Homo sapiens: one gene and its partner. The protein of the gene in region 1 interacts with the protein of each later gene in a pairwise test. Each region holds a gene or a part of one and is shown on either strand. Other genes may lie near its edges. The genes, in order: ELOVL3 and MUC20.

What was found.
Region 2: the proteins of ELOVL3 (region 1) and MUC20 interact in a two-hybrid assay, tested with the Homo sapiens proteins (one large-scale study listed by BioGRID and IntAct).

What each region holds. Positions count from the first base shown.
Region 1 is NC_000010.11:102,224,886-102,229,378, forward strand, and holds the start of ELOVL3 (very long chain fatty acid elongase 3), read left to right. Parts: upstream 1-1,413; 5' UTR 1,414-1,663; coding exon 1,664-1,764; intron 1,765-2,740; coding exon 2,741-2,872; intron 2,873-3,531; coding exon 3,532-3,683; intron 3,684-3,939; coding exon 3,940-4,367; 3' UTR 4,368-4,493. UniProt on the Homo sapiens protein: Catalyzes the first and rate-limiting reaction of the four reactions that constitute the long-chain fatty acids elongation cycle.
Region 2 is NC_000003.12:195,719,571-195,724,073, reverse strand, and holds the start of MUC20 (mucin-20 isoform a precursor), read right to left. Parts: upstream 3,097-4,503; 5' UTR 3,067-3,096; coding exon 2,991-3,066; intron 1-2,990. UniProt on the Homo sapiens protein: May regulate MET signaling cascade. Seems to decrease hepatocyte growth factor (HGF)-induced transient MAPK activation. Blocks GRB2 recruitment to MET thus suppressing the GRB2-RAS pathway. Inhibits HGF-induced proliferation of MMP1 and MMP9 expression.

The DNA of each region.
Region 1 (4,493 bases):
ATCTCCTGACCTCATGATCTGCCCGCCTCGGCCTCCCAAGGTGCTGGGATTACAGGCGTGAACCACCGTGCCCGGCCGAACCACTGAAGGTTTTTAAGCAGGAAAGCAGAGCTGTTTTCTGGATGAGCAAACAGAAAGTAGTGGTTTTCCAAGTACAGTCTGAGACAACCTATAGGACCAGAATCTCTGCAGTTGAGGCTCAGGAATCTGGTAATCAGCCAGGTATAGGAACTCTTTTCTGATTGCAATGCAGTGAAGAGCAGAAGCACTGTATTAGAGAAAGAGGCAGTGCAACCAGGTAACGTGACCAGGTGAGAAGTGATGAGGTACAGAGACAAAGAGATGCACTTTTGAGTCACTTAGATGGCACTGATAGGACTTCCACTACACCCTCGCATAGACAGTGGCTGAGGTTCAGGAAATAGAGCTGGGGTTCCTACTTGGATCCTCTGGCTCTAGAGCTTTACTGCACATAGCCATTTATACCCACATCTTGATTTTAATTATTTTATATCTATGTTTCTTAGCACTTTTTGCAAATTTCCACCTTATCTCAAACTGCCCTCAAGCCTTGTATTTCTCCTTCGCTTTCATAAAACCTAGGAAAGAAATAAGGGACAGCCAAGTAAAACTTTTAAAAGTTTTAGAACATTTATTTCTTTGGGGCTGGTTACACAGGCGAGAAAGAAGTAGATTTGGTTAGGGAGAGAAAACAACAGGCCTTGGGGAGATACACTGGCTCTCCCCCTCCCTAAACCCTAAGAGGCCTCCAGGAAACCTGAAGACAATAATTCCAGAAGCCCAGAGGGTGACCCCATTTCCTCTCTCCATGGTTATTACTGTCAGTCTGGAGCAGTTCAGGAATTCAGGAAACTATAAAGAAACCACAACAGCCTCAACAACCCAAACATCAACATCAACAACCTCAACAATAAAACTCCTTAAAATTCATCTCCTTCCACCCACTCACAACCGCAGACTCGAAGCTAGGAGGTGGAAGGGACTACAGAAGCTCTGCGTTGCCCAGGTTAGTATTTGCTCATCACAGGCCTGGGTTTCCCAGGATCTCAGGGAGCCTGGAAACTGACGCCTCCATTTCTGGGTGGGAGCACCAAAGCCTAAGGACACCTTTCCTCTCTCTTCACTGCTAAGCAGGTCAAGATTAAAGCAAACCGAGGCAAAGGCCACGGTTGACAGTTCCAAGGGAACCCGCAAGGCCGCACAGGATGGGGTGGACGTTTTACGGGAGAAAAGGCTGGGGAAGTGGGCGGGCGATGGCCTACGACGGGACTTGGGGCGGGGTGTGCGAAACGCCTGGCAGGCGGGCCCTTGAGTATGACCAATCAGAATGCGGACTGCGTCCCAGGGGCGGAGCAGAGGCGTATCTTGGTCGAGATTGGATAGCGGCGGGGCGCAGGAAAGAGGTCGCGCCAGCCCGGGCAGGCAGCTTTGCAAGTCCGCGTTATATATCGCAGTGGCTGCGCCCGGGATAGCTGGCTGCGCCGCCGCGCACATGCCTAGGTTCGACGCCCTCCTCCCTTTGCCCAGGAGTTCCTTCTGTCCCGGCTCTGTTCCGTCTCGCCCCGAGGTTCACGCCATCCTCGGAGCCCCAGCCTTTCACCCAGCGCCTCCAAGCTTTGGACCTTGACTTCTGCAAAACTAGATGGTCACAGCCATGAATGTCTCACATGAAGTAAATCAGCTGTTCCAGCCCTATAACTTCGAGCTGTCCAAGGACATGAGGCCCTTTTTCGAGGAGTATTGGTGAGACTTTGGGAGAGGGAAAGGCCATGCCAGGGCCCCGGGGCCGGGGCGCGAGGGGGTGGCATTGAATGCCCACAATGATTTTCTTACAGAGCAGAGTTATGGGACTCCCTTGTACTGGCTTCACACTACCTTTGTCCGAGGTGCAGGTAGTATGTGGCACCTCAAAGAGATTAGAGCTGAAAGCAAGCAAGCAGAAATAAGAGGATGAGGGAGAACGTGGAAATATACAGAAGTCAAAGAGAGCGTGTAGTGAGAAGGGTCTTGGAGGCGTGAGGTTGATCTGAAGCCTTACTAGATGACTTCCCCGTCCTTTGTGGCTGTGTGTGCGCGCGTGTGTGCACAGTGCAGGGCCCGGGGGACAGCCTGCCCTTTACAATTATCCCATCGTTCCCCAGGTGCTCCACCGTTCCTGCTGTGGAGAAGGAGGCGAAGTCAGAGAGCTCTTCCAAGCTTTCCCCAGGAAGAGCTCTCTGGCTTTGCCTTAAAGCTCCCCAGAGGTTTTGGAGGCTGACTTTATGCTCCAACCAATTTGCCATACCCCAGCCAGGGAGAAGCTATTGCCACATTCTTCTTACGCCACAGCCCTGGTATGCTTCTAGGAGCCCCAACCAGGGAGAAGCTATTGCCACACTTCTTACACCACAGCCCTGGGCTGCTTCTAGGCGCGGGCCAGACAGCCGTCACCCACCTCTAACCCCACTGAGAGAGCAATAATCACAGAAACCTTGGACATAGCTCCTGCCCTGTGCTAGATACTTTGTATACGTTAATACCCCCAGGAGAGATGTAGTATTCGCGCTCTACAAATGAGGAAGCCAAGGCTCAGAGAATTAAGTTGGTTTTTCCAATGTCACATAGCTAGTAAGTGGCAGAACTGGGACTCCAACCCAGAGCACTCACCTGGAGAGATGAGTGGGCATTTCTCTAATCAGCACCCACCCATGAGCCCATCCCTCTGCCTTCTGCTTGCCAGGGCAACCTCATTCCCCATAGCCCTGATCTACCTGGTTCTCATCGCTGTGGGGCAGAACTACATGAAGGAACGCAAGGGCTTCAACCTGCAAGGGCCTCTCATCCTCTGGTCCTTCTGCCTTGCAATCTTCAGGTAAGACCCCATCCCACTCCCTGCCTCTTCTCTAGATCTTAGACCACCATTCTATCCCTTGAAGCTTTCCCGATTGCATCAACCTCCATCCTGTCCCCAAGTTGCCTTGTAACACTCTCCCCATCTCATTCTCGGCTTTAGTTCCCCTCCCAGCCTTCACCCTCTTCTGTTATATTATCCTGTTTTCCTTCTCTTTTAGACCCCTACCTGGTGGTCTCTGCTTTGTCCCTCTTGCCTTCGTAGAGTCTGTACTCGCAACTAATTTCTCCAGCCTCTAATAGTGTCACCTCCTAACACCCTCTCTCAAGACCCTCCAATAACTTCCCCATATTTTCTCCCCCAAACTCCTTCAGTCTTCCCCTATCCCTCTACACATCTCCTCCCAGGCTCCTAACCCCTCCCAAGAACCCCATTCCTTAACTCAACTTTCAGTCCCATCCCCCTGCATTCCCTGATCTTTCTCCAGCCCTCGTCTCCTCTAGACTACTGATTGGATCTACCAGATTGGCTTCAGGATCTCAGGAGCTTTGACCCACCCCCTGTGGACAGGTGGGGAGGTGGTAGAGCTTGGAACACAGTAACCTGGCCAAGCCGGGGGAAGGGTGGATTATTGGTGCCTGGGGATGACACTTACACCATCTTCCTTTGTCCCATTTCAGTATCCTGGGGGCAGTGAGGATGTGGGGCATTATGGGGACTGTGCTACTTACCGGGGGCCTAAAGCAAACCGTGTGCTTCATCAACTTCATCGATAATTCCACAGTCAAATTCTGGTCCTGGGTCTTTCTTCTCAGCAAGGTCATAGAACTCGGTGAGTGGCAAAGCTTTGTCTTTCTGGTGCCTTGTGAACTGCATCCTTCCTCAGGGCCCTCCCTTCACCCATCCCATGGAGGGTCTCTTTCCTACCCTTGGGTCCCAATAATACCTCTCACCCAAGCCCCTCTACAGATTCTCTGCCACAAAGACCCCCTTCCCTCCCCTGAGAATTTCTCCCGTGTCCCTACATCCAGTGCAGAGGGTGGTCCCAGCACTGGGTGGTATGCCAACTATGACTCTCCATCTCCCAGGAGACACAGCCTTCATCATCCTGCGTAAGCGGCCACTCATCTTTATTCACTGGTACCACCACAGCACAGTGCTCGTGTACACAAGCTTTGGATACAAGAACAAAGTGCCTGCAGGAGGCTGGTTCGTCACCATGAACTTTGGTGTTCATGCCATCATGTACACCTACTACACTCTGAAGGCTGCCAACGTGAAGCCCCCCAAGATGCTGCCCATGCTCATCACCAGCCTGCAGATCTTGCAGATGTTTGTAGGAGCCATCGTCAGCATCCTCACGTACATCTGGAGGCAGGATCAGGGATGCCACACCACGATGGAACACTTATTCTGGTCCTTCATCTTGTATATGACCTATTTCATCCTCTTTGCCCACTTCTTCTGCCAGACCTACATCAGGCCCAAGGTCAAAGCCAAGACCAAGAGCCAGTGAAGGTTTGGAGAGAACAATGAAGCTCCAGGCTCTCTCTTCTCCAGGGCACCAAGAGGCTGGGCTTAGTTTTGGGAGAATGATTAGGTTGCCTTACCTGCATGGTTTCCCCAGAGGATGTGTGCCCCA
Region 2 (4,503 bases), on another chromosome or scaffold:
CCTGAATGAGGGCTGAGAACTGCAGGGTTGGAGCCTGGGAACCATGGAAACCGTGGCCAGGCATTTTCCACAGGACACCGGGAGACCCTGAGGCAACACCTAGCTTTTCAGAGAGCGGCTGCCAGCACTTCTGCCCAGAGCAGAGGCCTGTTCCCTTGACTGGCCCTGAGGTGGGAGGAATGGGAGTCCCCGAGGGAGGCTACGGTAGGATATCTTCCCTAGAGACAGGGTCTTGCTCTGTTGCCCAGGCAGGTCTTGAATTCCTGGGCTCAAGCGATCCTCCTGCCTCAGCCTCTTGAGTAGTTTACTACAAGATCTTTTCTGGCCTGAGAAAGGGGGCCTCCCCTGTCTAGAGGGAGATCGGGCTCTCCCTGTGAGTGGGCCAAGGAGCCTCTTGGAGAGGGTTTCTAGATTTAGCAAATAAAAATACAGGGTACTCGGTTAAATTTGAACTTGCATTTCAGATAAACGACGAATAACTTTTTAGCATGAGTATTTCTCATGCAATATTGGCTACATACTTACACTTAAAAAAAATTGTTACCTGAAATTCAAATGTAACTGGATGCCCTGTGTTTTATCTGGTAATCCCAGTCTTGGAAGGAAAAGGATCAAATACGAACCCCCTAATTCTCTGAGCCTTCTTGGTCCAGCCTACACAGCTGGAAGCCCAAAGGTGGCGCTCTTGGAGTCTGACCTCCCCTGGCACAGGGTTTGAGATGGTCTTTACCCAGCTCCACTGGCCCAAAAGTAGCCCATAGACCCAAAAGGGGCCTAGCACCTCTCCCCAGGGCATCAGGATGGGGCCCCAGGTCCCCAACTGGTTGTCCTGTGGACCTCAGGGAATGACGACGCAGGAGTCAAGAGCCTCGGTTGCAGCTCCCGCTGTGCCGCCCACGACTGGCTCCGGGGTCAGATGATCTGCTGGTTCAAATCCTGACTCAGCCTCCTACTAGCCAGGCCAGTCTCTAGACCCCTCCCAGCCTCCATGTCCTCACCTGAGAAAACAGGGTCACAATACCTGCCTTGCCAACGTGATGAGGACCAGCGGAGAAGGTGAAAGGGCTTATATTCCAAAGCCCACAAGGTAAGCATCCCTCCCTATGGAGTCCTCTCCCAGGCCACTGGAAAGCACGCATAGTTGATCTGACTATAGTGAGGAGTGCGGGCTGCACCCCCAGGCAGTATAGGCGAGTCCCGGGCACCCACTCTCATCCCTGGTCCAGTGCGGCCCAGCTGCACACACAAATCTCACTTTTGCAGGAACTGTTCGTCTGCCTTCATAATACAGTTTCTTCTCCCCACTTCAAGCCTGAGATCATTTCTTTGAGCCTTCTTGGTCCAGCCCACACAGCTGGAAGCCCAGAGTGGTGCCCTTGGAGCCCGACTTCCCCTGGCACATTTTCTGGCTTATCCAGGAGCCCCGGGGTGTCCTTTCTGCTGTGAAACCTCCTCATGCTCCCCAAGCCCACAGCCTCTCGGGTCCAAGGGGGTCTTCTCGAATACAGCAAATCCCAGCCCAGCCCCTCAGTAGCTCTGGAACACTGCGGCTCTCCTGGTACAATCTTCAAATCTGGTGGAGAGGAAAGCGTGTGGACTTGGGACCCTGAGTTGGAGAATCTGCTCTCTGCCCTGTGACCCTGGCCAAGTCTCTCAGCTCCAAGCCTGCATTTCCGCACCTGTAAGGTGGAGCTAACGGGACACGTGCAGCGCAGACCAGGCCACGGTGAGCACAGGCAGGAGGCCACGGGGTGCAGTGCTCAGGCCTGTGAGGAGTCAGATTCTGGCTCCGAGGAGTTGTTACTGGATGCCCAGAAGCACAGTGGCCTCACCCTTAAAGCAGTGGAGGTGGGGGGTGGTAAAAACAGGGCCGATCTTGCAGGGCCGTTGTGAGGATTAAAAATACAATGTATGATAATGATGCATCAAAGTAGGTTCCTCAGTCCTATCAAATGTGCCACTCTGGTGGGGGACGCTGATGATGGGGGAGGCTGTGAGTGGTGGGGATGGGAACTCCAGACTCTCCACTGCAGCTTTTTTTTTTTTGAAACATAGTTTCACTTTTGTTGCCCAGGCCAGAGCGCAAGGGTGCGATCTCAGCTCACTGCAAACTCCACCTCCCAGGTTCAAGCAATTCTCCTGCCTCAGCCTCCCGAGTAGCTGGGATTACAGGCACCTGCTACCACCCCCGGCTAATTTTGTATTTTTAGTAGAGACGGGGTTTCTCCATGTTGGTCAGGCTGGTCTCGAACTCCTGACCTCAGGTGATCCACCCACCTCAGCCTCCCAAAATGCTGGGATTACAGGTGTGAGCCACCACGCCCGGCCTCTCCACTCGAGGTTTAGAGGGAGCATAGAACTAAAAAAAAAATAAATCCTTTTCTATTTTTTAATGTATGTGATGAGTTTGGCACAACTCCTATTAGCGACAGGTCAGGGTTCATTCCCGTCTTTCACAAAAGCCCTGCCTGTCAGCATCCACCCTTCCCAAGCAGTTTGTGGCAGTTGGACTTTTCACACGAAATCTGTATTTTGAAGGAAATCCATGCTAGGTAATAAACTGGGAGGAGTCAGAATCTTGTTAAGCCACATTCTTCAGCTTTCTGCACAATGATCACCAGCTGGCACCTCCCTGCACCCCCGCTCCGTGCCCCACTTACTGTCCCACGTTCATAAAGACAAACTCTCAGCCATCCCTTACGATGGCAGCGTCATGGTTGATTAGCGTGTACTGCAGCGCCAGGCACGCTTACACTCACACACATCGTCATGGTTGATTAGTGTGTACTGCAGCGCCATGCACGCTTACACTCACACTGTCATTTGCACACTCTTTATCAACAATAATAGCACTTCACAAGTAGCACTGTGGTTCATTATAATCAACCCGAGAGAGCCTGCCCTTGCCCATGAAGGGTGGCTCATACTGAAATTCACTCCCAGAGCCCTACTAGGGGAGAGGCCCACCAGGCCCTTCTAGGCCTCCTTACCTGCAGAGCTCCCAGAGACCCCAACCTCCCAGCAGAAGAAGAAAAGGGGCAGAGCCAGACCCCAGAGACAGCCCATCCTAGCCGGCCACCGCTGCTCCACAGAACTGCTGGCTGTCTCTCGCGGGTACCTTTTCCTGCTTCCTCAAACCAGGGAGGAGGGGCAGCCTCCTGCCCAGGTGTGTGACCAGGTGATCACAAATGTGCAGGCTGAGGGCTGGCAGGTTGAGGCTGTCAGCAAGCTGACCCCCCTGCCTTCCTTGCCCGGTAAACACTCCACTGAAATTTGATTTGAAGATATGGAATCACTAGCTTCTTTTTTTTTTTTTGAGATGGAGTCTTGCTCTGTCACCCAGGCTGGAGTGTACAGTAATGAGATCTCAGCTCAATGAAACCTCTTCCTCCCGGGATCCAACAATTCTCCTGCCTCAGCCTCTGGAGTAGCTGGGATTATAGGCGCGCACCACCACGTCGGGCTAATTTTTGTATTTTTAGTAGAGATGGGGTTTCACCATGTTGGCCAGGCTAGTCTCAAACTCCTGACCTCAGGTGATCTACCTACCTCAGCCTCCCAAAGTGCTGGGAGTACAGGCATGAGCCACTGCACCCAGCCAAGTGCTTTTATTTTCTTAAGCCAATTAATTAGAGCTCTTTTATATATTTTCAGTAGCAAAACACTGTGTACACAACAACACATAAATACACAGATGTATTAGGTATGCTGAAAGAAGTTCATCTTATAGATTCATAAAGAGCTTTTTTCTTACACCTTCAAATTCTTTTTTACTTTTTTTTTTTTTTTTTTTGAGACAGAGTCTCACTCTGTTGCCCAGGCTGGAGTGCAATGGCTTGATCTCGACTCACTGCAAACTCTGCCTCCTGGCTTCAAGTGATTCTCCTGCCTCAGCTTCCTGAGTAGCTGGGATTATAGGCACCTGCCACCACATCTGGCTAATTTTTTTTGTATTTTTAGTAGAGACGGGGTTTCAACATGTTGGCCAAGATGGTTTTGAACTCCTGACCTCAAGAGATCTTTGCGGCTCAGCCTCCCAAATGCTAGGATTACAGACGTGAGCCACCGTGCCCAGCCACACCTTCGAATTCTTGATAACCTGTTTTACTACTCTAAGCGGTTGTCAGCTAAATAGCCTTGAATTTGCATTTTAAGGAAACTGAGGTGAAAATCGAATAGCAAAATTTACATCATAACGTATGGAGAGAAAAAGTCTGGTGTGCTGGAGGGAAATTAAAACAGATTTAATTGCCAATTAAACATAAAATTATAGAAATTATAAAGGCCTTTTAAATATATACACACACACAAAGATCCTATAGCTTTTACTTCAGAAATTTAGCCATGAAAGCTGGGCGCGGTGACTCACGCCTGTAATCCCAGCACCTTGGGAGGCCGAGGCGGGCAGATCACCTGAGGTCAGGAGTTGGAGACCAGCCTGACGAACATGGAGAAACCCCATCTCTACTAAAAATACAAAAAATTAGCCAGGCATGGTGGTGC